2 linked regions of the Homo sapiens genome follow. The protein of the gene in region 1 interacts with the protein of each later gene in a biochemical or structural test. Each region holds a gene or a part of one and is shown in the gene's direction. Other genes may lie near its edges.

Region 1 (5,326 bases):
GTCGTGGCTGACTCAAGTTAACGTTCCCGAAAAAGCCTGCAGAGCCGGAGATCTGAACCCGGCATCTGCCGCCACAGCATCTCCCCACCCCCACAGAACTTTCTTTAAGTTTGGTGTGGTGTGGGATATGTTTTTCAGAAGAGGGTCTAAGTTTTCACCAGATTCTCAGATAACCCCCAGAGAGCAAGAACTTCCACCTGGGGTGTAGAGCCTGACACCCGGAGAGGTTTTTTTCCTTCCATAAGTGCCCATCTCCTAAGGGTGTTTAAGGGTTAACAGCAGAGTGCTTTCCTCCAGAGAAGCGCAGGCAGTGTCTAATAACACATTTTCTACGTCCGTTTTATAGATAGGGAAACTGGGGCACAGAATTCGAGGGCCTTGTCCAAAGTCATGGATGGAACTGGATCTCCAAATGCTGTAACTCCTGATGTCCCTGCAAATTGCACATGGGAATATGCTTTGTAAAAGTGCCTTCTGGGTGAAAGGGTTAACATGTTAGGCAGTGGAGGAGAGCCCGTCAAAAGCTGTCAAAAGGTCTTGCCCGGGGTCTTGGATCAGGCTAGACTAGACAATGGCCAAAGTATTGAGAAACTGGAACACAGGAACTGTTTTCCTTTGACGTCTAGTCTGCTGTGCCAGACTCCAGACATTTGCCCTCCGAACACAGTATGTTAGGATGAAACTAAAAAGAAAGGCCAGGTGAGCTTCCGCGTCTCCTGTATCCTATTTTGAGTGAGTTTCCAAAAGCAAGATTGTGTTTAGACATCCAAGACTGCAGTTATCAGCTGTACAGCTCCAGACTGTTGGAACGCTGAATTTTGCCATCAGAGCAAAAGATCCTTACCCCATGCTGAGATTGACCCAAGGAGGTAGAGACAGGGAGTGTGTGAGGGACACTGGCTCTCCCTGGCCCACCTCTGTCTCCAGCTGTGCTGCTTGAAGCTGCTTTGTCAATGGAAATGGCACATTTGTTAGTCTTTTTTTTTTGAGGCAGAGTCTCCCTCTATGGCCAGGCTGGAGTGCAGTGGCACGATCTCAGCTCACTGCAACCTCCGCCTCTCAGGTTCAAGTGATTTTTGTGTGCTGATCAGCCTCTCGAGCAGCTGGGATTACAAGTGTGTTCCACCACACCCGAATAATTTTTGTACTTTTTGTAGAGGCTGGGTTTTACCATGTTGGCCAGGCTGGTCTCAAACTGCTGGCCTCAAGTGATCTGCCTGCCTCAGCCTCCTTCCAAAGTGCTGGGATGACAGGCGCGAGCCCTGTGTTGGGTTGCATGTTTGTAAGTCTTAATGTGAGTAAACAGCAGTCCATTGCAGCTTTTAAGTTCCTGTTTATACACATAAATACGTTATTATTTTACATATGTGTATAAGCAGGACTCTAAAAGCTACATCTTCCTTTCTCTATCCACTTAAAACCAACAGGGGCCCATGATGCCCATCCTTTGGGCTGTCGGTGCTGTTCTAGAATCAGAGCACCTGGGAGGCTGAGGGTTCAGCATATGATGCCCCTTTATGCCTCATGGAAAGTGCACACCCTACATTTAAGTTTTGCTTTTTTTTTTTTTTTTTTGAGCTGGAGTTTAGCTGTTGTTGCCCAGGTTGGAGTGCAATGTTGCGATCTCAGCTCACTGCAATCTCCGCCTCCCGGGTTCAAGCAATTCTTCTGCCTCAGCCTCCCGAGTAGCTGGGATTATAGACGCCCACCACCACACCTGGCTAATTTTTTGTATTTTTAGTAGAGACGGGGTTTCACCACGTTGGCCAGGCTGGTCTCGAACTCCTGATCTCAGGTGGTCCACCCACCTTGGCCTCCCAAAGTGCCCCACGTTTAAGTTTTGTTAGCATCTACTGAGTTTGGTCCATGTTCGGGGCTGGGTCCATGCAGCCCCATTGCCTTTCCATAGGCCTAGGGCAGCCCTCTGCCCCTTGTCCTGGGTTGGCCTCCTGCCCAGTCTCCCTGGCCCCAGGTTTCTGGTCTCTGTTTCTCTGTTGAGCAGTCCTAGGGACCCTGTGTGCTGCCACAGGCAGACAGCAGTCCTTGTTGCAGAAAGAACCTTTTTTACTGAGCATTTTGCATGCCTTGCCCCGCTCAGGGTTGCTAGGAGGAGGTCTGTGTGAAAGCAGCCGCCCAGGAAATGTCCAAAACCATATTGCCTTCAGTGACCCCAAAGCTGCAGGTGTCGGGCTTGTAGAAGATGAGCCAAATACTTACATTGTTGAGGGGCAGAATTGCCTTGAGTAAAAGATGTGCATTTTATAGAACATTCTTATGGCAGATGAGCGTTGTCATTGCCTAGGTGTTAAGAAAAAATTCAAATTCTTTTTTCCTCCGCTCTCACGGCCACACTCAACAACCAACACCAGACTTCTTCCGCACCCCCCACCCCAGATGGAGTCTTGCTCTGTCTCCCAGGCTGGAGTGCAGTGGTGTGATCTCAGCTCACTGCAGCCTCCACCTCCTGGGTTCAAGCAACTCTCCTGCCTCAGCCTCCTGAGTAGCTGAGATGACAGGCACCTGTCACTGTGCTCGGTAATTTTTGTATTTTCAGTAGAGATGGGGTTTCACCATGTTGGCCAGGCTGTCTTGAACTCCTGACCTCGTGATTTGCCCGCCTCCCAAAGTGCTGCGATTACAGGCGTGAGCCACCACGCCCCGCCTCCCAACACAAGACTTCTGTGACTAGACGTAAAGGGAGGTCTCCCCCTGCTATCAAGCAAGCAATCAGTTCTGCAGCACACACCGGCTGGGTGTCCTCCAGTTCATCTCTTGACACTATCCACCTGGAGGTAGATTTCCTCATCTTGAGGGCTCAGTCCCCAAGACTGTCCTTCCACCCCAGACACCAGTTGCAAGTCCAGTCCCTGGTAGCTTCTGACCAACTAGCCTCTAGTTGGGGTTCTCATGACCCCCTCTTTGGGGTCGATTAATTTATTGGAATGGCTCACAGAACTCAGGGAAACACCAGTTTATTATAAAGGATATTACAAAGGCTATGGATAAAGAGACCTGTAAGGCTAGATGTGGCAGAAGGGGCACTGTGTTTCCGTGCCCTCTGCAGACCACCCACCTGGTACATGTTCAGCTCTCCACAAGCTCTGTGACCTGGTCCTTACAGGTTTTTAACGGAGGCTTCATTATGTAGGCATGGTAGATTAAGCCATTGATCATCACTTTAACCTTCAGTCATCTCCCTCCTGAGGTTGGAGGATGGGGCTGAAAGTCCCTAGGCTCCCACTGCCCCATCCGGAAGCTGCCTGGGGGCTGCCAGTGTCAGTCATTAGCATACAAAAAGACATTGCTTTGGAGATTCCAAGGATTTGGGAAGTTGCATGCCAGGAACTCCAAATATTGATGGCAGTGTCACACTAGGGTAGATTCAGTCCTAATTCTTTGCGCACTTCATAACCTCCTAAAGCAAGTAAAGGCAGCAGCCTTGGCCAGATCCTACAAAACAGGTGAGTGTTGCAAGCTGCCCAGGTCTTTGTAGTTTTTCCAGTCTTGGGTTGCCAAGGTTTTGTGGACCCTGAGACAGATGTGTTGAATCTGAAAGGAGCAAATAAATAAAACTGAAAGCCAACCCGGAAGTCTGTTTCAGTTGATGGCCCTTAGGTAATTGGTCGATGCCGGCATTGTTCCCGGGGGTCTTACCTCCCCGGAGCAGCGGTCTTCTACATGGACCTATGTTAAAAGGTTGACTCTGGGCCCCGTAAACGCGCACCTTGCATTTGGATCATAATTCAAAAATTGCTTTAGACTAGAAATCCCATTTTGTTGATTGAAGAAGCTCAGTGCCTTTTCTGTCCATTTCTGTGTGTCTCTGCCCAGGTTATGTGACCAAGTTGCTGGAGGCAGCCAGGTGAAATGACATGAAAATCACTCATCTCATTGGGCAGACTGTTTGCCAGGCTGTCTGCTGCGTGGCCTTTATACACAAGCAGGGTCGCAGACACTGAGTTCGTCCAAAAAAACAATCCGTAGGCCCATCAGGGAAGGCTGGATTCCGCCTGGGAGGGCACACTGAGCTTCAGACACCCACACACCCACTGGCACCCCCGCCCTGCCCCGCCGCCCCGGGTGGAGCCCGCAAGCGCGGGAGTCTCTCCCACGATTGGCTGTTTCTGGTCTCTGAGGAAGAGGAGCACCCCTTAAGTGAGAAGGGGTGCTGGGAGTTCTCTGTTACTCTATTTAAATGTTAATTCCACATAAGGCAGAGGAAAGAAGTTATAGAGAAATAAAAGAAAGCAGCTTAGAGCAAACAATTATGTAAATAATAACGAAATACACTAACCTCCATCTAATGTGTGAGGAAATAGGATCCATGACGTAAAAACTTGAATAACAGTTAATGTCCTTCATAGGAATCTGACCACCGTCACTGGAGTAGACTCAGTTTACCGGGGTTTTTCACACATACACACGTATATATGTATATGTATACACACGTATGTATATGTGTGTGTGTGTGTATATATATGTGTGTGTGAGTGTATATATATATTTTTTTCTTTTTCTTTTTCTTTTTCTTTTTTTAAGATGGAGTCTCGCTCTTTCGCCCAGTCTGGAGTGCAGTGGCGCGATCTCGGCTCACTGCAAGCCCCGCCTCCCGGGTTCATGCCCTTCTCCTGTCTCAGCCTCCCGAGTAGCCGGGACTACAGGCGTGAGCCACCATGCCCGGCCCACAAATACATTTTTATTGGCGTGGTTGGGTTTGCCTATAAATGCTTAGCTAGCTTGATGGATCAGTCTTCATGAGCCCTTGACCAAATGTCCAGGTCACCCAGGAAACTCCCTCCCCAAGGCCAAGGCCACTGCGGTTAAGCTCTGGCTGTCTGAACTTGCCCCTGAACCATGCCCTCTGGCCTGATGGAGCTGAGGCTTCTGGTGTGGCCTCAGCACTGTGAAGTTTTGCTGCAGTGGTTGCATCTCAGTGTAGGGTGGTTTGACTTCAATGGTTCATACTGAGCACAGGTGCCCATGAACCTCCGCCTGCCTGGTCTGCAGTTGCTGGCATTCCAGGGCTCTTTTCTAGGCTTGCCCTCTGGCCTGGGAGCTTGGTCTCCAGTGCCTTAGCACCCTTCCTGGGTCTCTACTGCCCCCTCCATGCCAACTTGGTAGGCTTGGGCAGAGGACCCAGAGGCCTCTCCTTCCACAGGGACTTCAACAGAAGCCATTGAATATAGACCTGTAGCATATTCCAGCCAGGCCTGCCAGTTAAACAAAGAAGGGCAGATAACCAGGGGAAGCTAGGCTCCAATTCAAGTAACCTGAGTTGTGGGTGCTGCAGGGGCTGGGCCACCCTCTGATTAAGGTCATTTTCTAA
Region 2 (4,412 bases), on another chromosome or scaffold:
AGCCTAAGTAGGGTTTAACACCGTGCCTCATCCTGGCTAACCTTCCTCCCTCGCCCCCCGCTCACAGCAGAGGCTGGGTTTTCTGTGGATGAATGTGTTCCTGGTTCACATCCATCTGCTCCTTCCTGATGGAGAGAGTTCCGGAAGCATGGCCACCGGCTGCTCACCCCACTCTGTTAGCTGCAGGGACCCTCCACAATCACTCGGGCTAGGGAGGGAGACGGGAAGTGCCAGAAAGCCTTGCAAGTCAGCCAGTTAACTCACGATCAGCCCTCACATAGAAATACGCAATTTTCCCAATATTTACCATTTTATTTTAAAATATAAAATGTGAGTGAGTCCCGGTTTGAGTATTACAATGAAATTGCTCATTTATCATGGTCTTCTATATTCAACACATTGTCTTTTTAATCTGAAGTTTTAAAAAACCTGCTTCGAGTTGGTAGTACACTTTTTCAATAATTTTGGTTGCACACATCAGCCTATTAGTGACCTTGTGGCCAGAAATAACAGATAACTTAGAGGAAGTTACTTCCCCTTCTTAGGAAACACCTTTGAGCTATGCACATTTTCTGATAATTTCACATTTATTTATGAGTTCTTTAACCATTGAGTGAAAGTTTCAAAAAAGCTCCAAATATATTAAATTTTGCTATTGTTAAACACGGAAGAAACCAATGAACAAGACAACAAATTCCAAATGGACTGAACTATGAAAAGGGAATTTTCTCAGCTAACAGCATGAGTTTTGGTCAAAAGAGAGAGAGGGAAAATGCATTTGAATAGAGATGTGGATTAATTATTAATAAAATCCATATACTCTTAGGCTAAATACTTATAATTGCTTGATACTACTTTCCAAAAGCTCTGTAAAATATATTATGGGTTTTTATACAAGTTGAAAAATAAAACATGTACCATATAATTTTTTAATAAAACGAGATTGCCCAGTGGGAAGTGGGATTGAGGGGGACACAGATAGGGCTTCATCAAGAAGTTATAAAATCAAAACACAAAACGCTTTATAGCAAACGGGGCACAGGAGTACACCAAGGCTCCAAGTTTCACTTCCATCTTGAGAATCTGACAGGTGCACCTGTCTGTTTCTCCGGAGCTCTGTTAAGGCAGGTTTGAGGAGGTCTCTTCCCTTTGTTGTCATAGGGAAAAGTAGATTTGGCGCTGATGTTGAGATCGACAACCACAACAAAAGACCTTCACATGTTTGTCTTTCCTTTTGTCTGCAGGGGGTGCAGCTTTTATTTTCCCAAATACTTCAGTATATCCTGAAGCTACGCAAAGAATTACAACTAGGCCAGGTACGAAAACACCCCTGTGTGATCTCTTCATTGAGAGACATCCCAGATGTCCTGCTGAGATCCGTGCCCTAAGTCACGTGATACAAAGAGAGCTGATCCCGGAGCTGAAGCCAGTCCCAGACAGTCTTATTCTGCCTCTGTTGATTTGGAGACTAAATCCACTCAAACCATTTCATTCAAAGACCACACTAAAGGAATTAAGAGCAGATTAGCCCTTTAACTAGCTTTTCAGAAAGACAGATGGGCAAAGAAGGCATCCTGGATGCCTGGCAGTTAGGAATAGGCCGACTTTTGAACTAACAGAAGGATCTGTCCCTCCTCGGGGGAAGAGCACAAAACAAGGACACTCCCCAGATTCACAGTGACCGATTATCAGTATGTCACAAGAAGCCAGTCTTGCAGAGCAGAAGCATGCAACCAGTAGTATTTACATCTGAATCTTACTGCCTGTCCTCCAAATGATTTAATTAGGTAATAAATTTACATGCCATTCATGCAAAAATAAACATCTATCAAGTGCCCATTAGTGCCAAGCGTGGTGTTAGACTCTGGGAATATATAGATGAACCAGGCTTCAGTAAGCTTCCTGTCTTCAGAAAGTTTACTTCTTCATTCAGCTTGGTTTGTTCATTTGCTGAGTGCCTCCTCTGTGCCAGCCACGGATGGTATGATGGTGAACAAACCGAAATGTTTTGCCTCCAGTTCTAGATGTTTCAGTAGAGTGACCTAGAGCCAGAGAGACACATATGTACACATAAATGTTTTCCCTAATGTGATAGATTTTATGGTAGAGGAACCACTTCTAGCAATACAGGGCGTAGGAGCAGGGGTGGGGAGGAACTCAATCCCCCATGAAAGGCATAAAGATGCTTTCCAGAGGAATGGCCACATGGCAAAGGGGAATTAGATGTTTGCCAGACGAATAATGAGCAGGGAGAGAGGGCATTTCCCAGAAGGGTATAGCTTGCCTTTAGCATTTGTCCTCTCCCTGGGACTTACATCAGCCCGATAAGCTAGGTATCATTGTACCAGCCTCACAGCTGATGACATTGTGTTCAGGGTGGTGGGATGGTTTCTCCATATTCATACATGCTTCCAGAATTCATGTTAAACTCTATCACATATCCGGAATACACAAGTCTCAGTTCGAACTGGTTCAAGATCTAGGCTTGGCAACTACTCTTTCTTTCTAATGAGAAAGACTGGGGGCCCAGGGAGCTAAAGAGAATGAATGAGGAAGCTTCTCAGGCTGTTCAAATACTGACACTGCCCTGGTTACTGCCTAGTGACTTCAGGCTGGCAATTTTCTCTTCTCTAACGTCAGAGAAAAAGTTTACTGTCTTGCTCCTGGGAAGCATGATGGAAAGGCTTAGCAGCTAAGGGGTACTAAGAGGTAGTAAGTCATCTCTGTCATGTAAAAGATTTCACAGGCCATTGAAACATGGGCAAGACCCAGTGCCTAGAGTCTGCAAGATTGGTCCTAAAGACATCCACCACGTGTATTGCGAGTGGAAAATAGAAATTCATGTTTGACTCAAGCTTTAGAGATTTTGTAATTCTGTGAGCATTTAAAAAATATTTCCATATAAACTAAAAAAATAAAAACTATTTCCAAAACATTTGGCTAGGGTTTTAAAAATTTTTTTACTTTTTAATTTTGTATTTGTTTGTTTATGTTAAGACATCTCATAGGTGCCTCTGACTGAGTTGCAAAGCCAGGGGTTGTGAGCTAGTATTATAAACTGTGTTAAAAGATCACAACACTGGCCAAATTCATTGGCACAATCTCTCTGTCAGACAAGCCAGCTGACTGATGCTACCTGGTTAAGACAGTGGGTCCTGGAGCTGCTTTGTTTTCACATTTTAGGATATGGTGGATTTGGAAGGTATGGCCCATCCAGGTGGATGGAGAAGAGGGTGACTGTGAGGATGTTGGTTGGGACTCCCTCTCTGCCCAACCCAGGGAAGGCAAGGGTGGCAAACTCAGACACCTCCCATGCCGCTCTGATGGTGGTCTTCCATGGGCCCATAATTTGAGCGTGACCTGGGAGAGAGCACACTTCCACAGCTCCACTACTAGTCAAGTATGTTTTCGCGACTCAGTTTGTACCTGAAATAACCTGTTTTGACCACTGCTACTGTGATTATGAGAACCAATACAAATATTGGTATCTGACCTGTAAAGAATTTAAAGCAGACTGAACAAGCCAGAGGACTATTTACTGTAGGCCCTATTCAGGGACTTGAACTTGGAGATAAGAACTAGTTATACACCTCGGGTCATCCATTGCTAAGCGATCAACCTTAAAGGACTGCTCCTGTGGAGATAAAAGCTGTGAACCTGCAACTGGAGAATGAACGTCGTGATGGCTGAGGGGGAAGAGCTTTTGCATCACTAACTTTCAGAGCTGAACGAGCTCCAGAGGGAGGTCACTGGGAATCTGACGATATCCCTGTGGTCAGTGGGTACCTGACTACTTTCAGAAAGGTGATTGTTGACTGTTTCTTTGAAGGTCCTTGGGGATACAGACCCAAATCCCTGTCTCCTCCACTCTTGGTTTGCTGTGCCATGATCTTCATTTCCATACCCTTTGTCTAATCCCACATCCGAGGGAACCGAACTCTGGTCAGCGTTATTGTGCTGACCATGAAGCAAGCCAGGCTCCTAGGTAACAACTCTACTTAGACCAGAATCTGTCTCTTCTCTGCATGGTGGCCGTTTCATTATAGAGTCCCTGATAGAGGAGACAGTGGTGTTCAGGGTTTACTGGTTAAATTAGACAGCATTCCGCACCCTTTCTGCAGAGACTCCTACACATGTGTGTTGTCCTGCTGCATCCACCTTCCCAGCACTTCCTCACCACCCTTCCCTCCTTCCCTTCCCACTGTGAGTCACCCATCCCTGGGTTACTGCCCCAACCTACCTTTTCTTTTCTTTTATCTTCTTTTCTCTTCTTTTTTTTTTTTTTTTTTTTTTGAGATGGAGTCTCACTCTGTTGCCAGGCTGAAGTGCAGTGGTGCAATCTCGGCTCACCACAACCTCTGCCTCCCGAGTTCAAGTGATTCTTCTGCCTCAGCCTCCCGAGTAGCTGGGGC

Evidence for each region.
Region 2: the proteins of RCC2 (region 1) and ERG form a complex in vitro, tested with the Homo sapiens proteins (one large-scale study listed by BioGRID).

What each region holds. Positions count from the first base shown.
Region 1 is NC_000001.11:17,432,168-17,437,493, reverse strand, and holds part of RCC2 (protein RCC2), read left to right. Parts: intron 1-5,326. UniProt on the Homo sapiens protein: Multifunctional protein that may affect its functions by regulating the activity of small GTPases, such as RAC1 and RALA. Required for normal progress through the cell cycle, both during interphase and during mitosis.
Region 2 is NC_000021.9:38,397,478-38,401,889, reverse strand, and holds part of ERG (transcriptional regulator ERG), read left to right. Parts: intron 1-1,244; coding exon 1,245-1,316; coding exon of another isoform or gene 1,317-1,528; exon of another isoform or gene 1,529-1,818; intron 1,819-4,412. UniProt on the Homo sapiens protein: Transcriptional regulator. May participate in transcriptional regulation through the recruitment of SETDB1 histone methyltransferase and subsequent modification of local chromatin structure.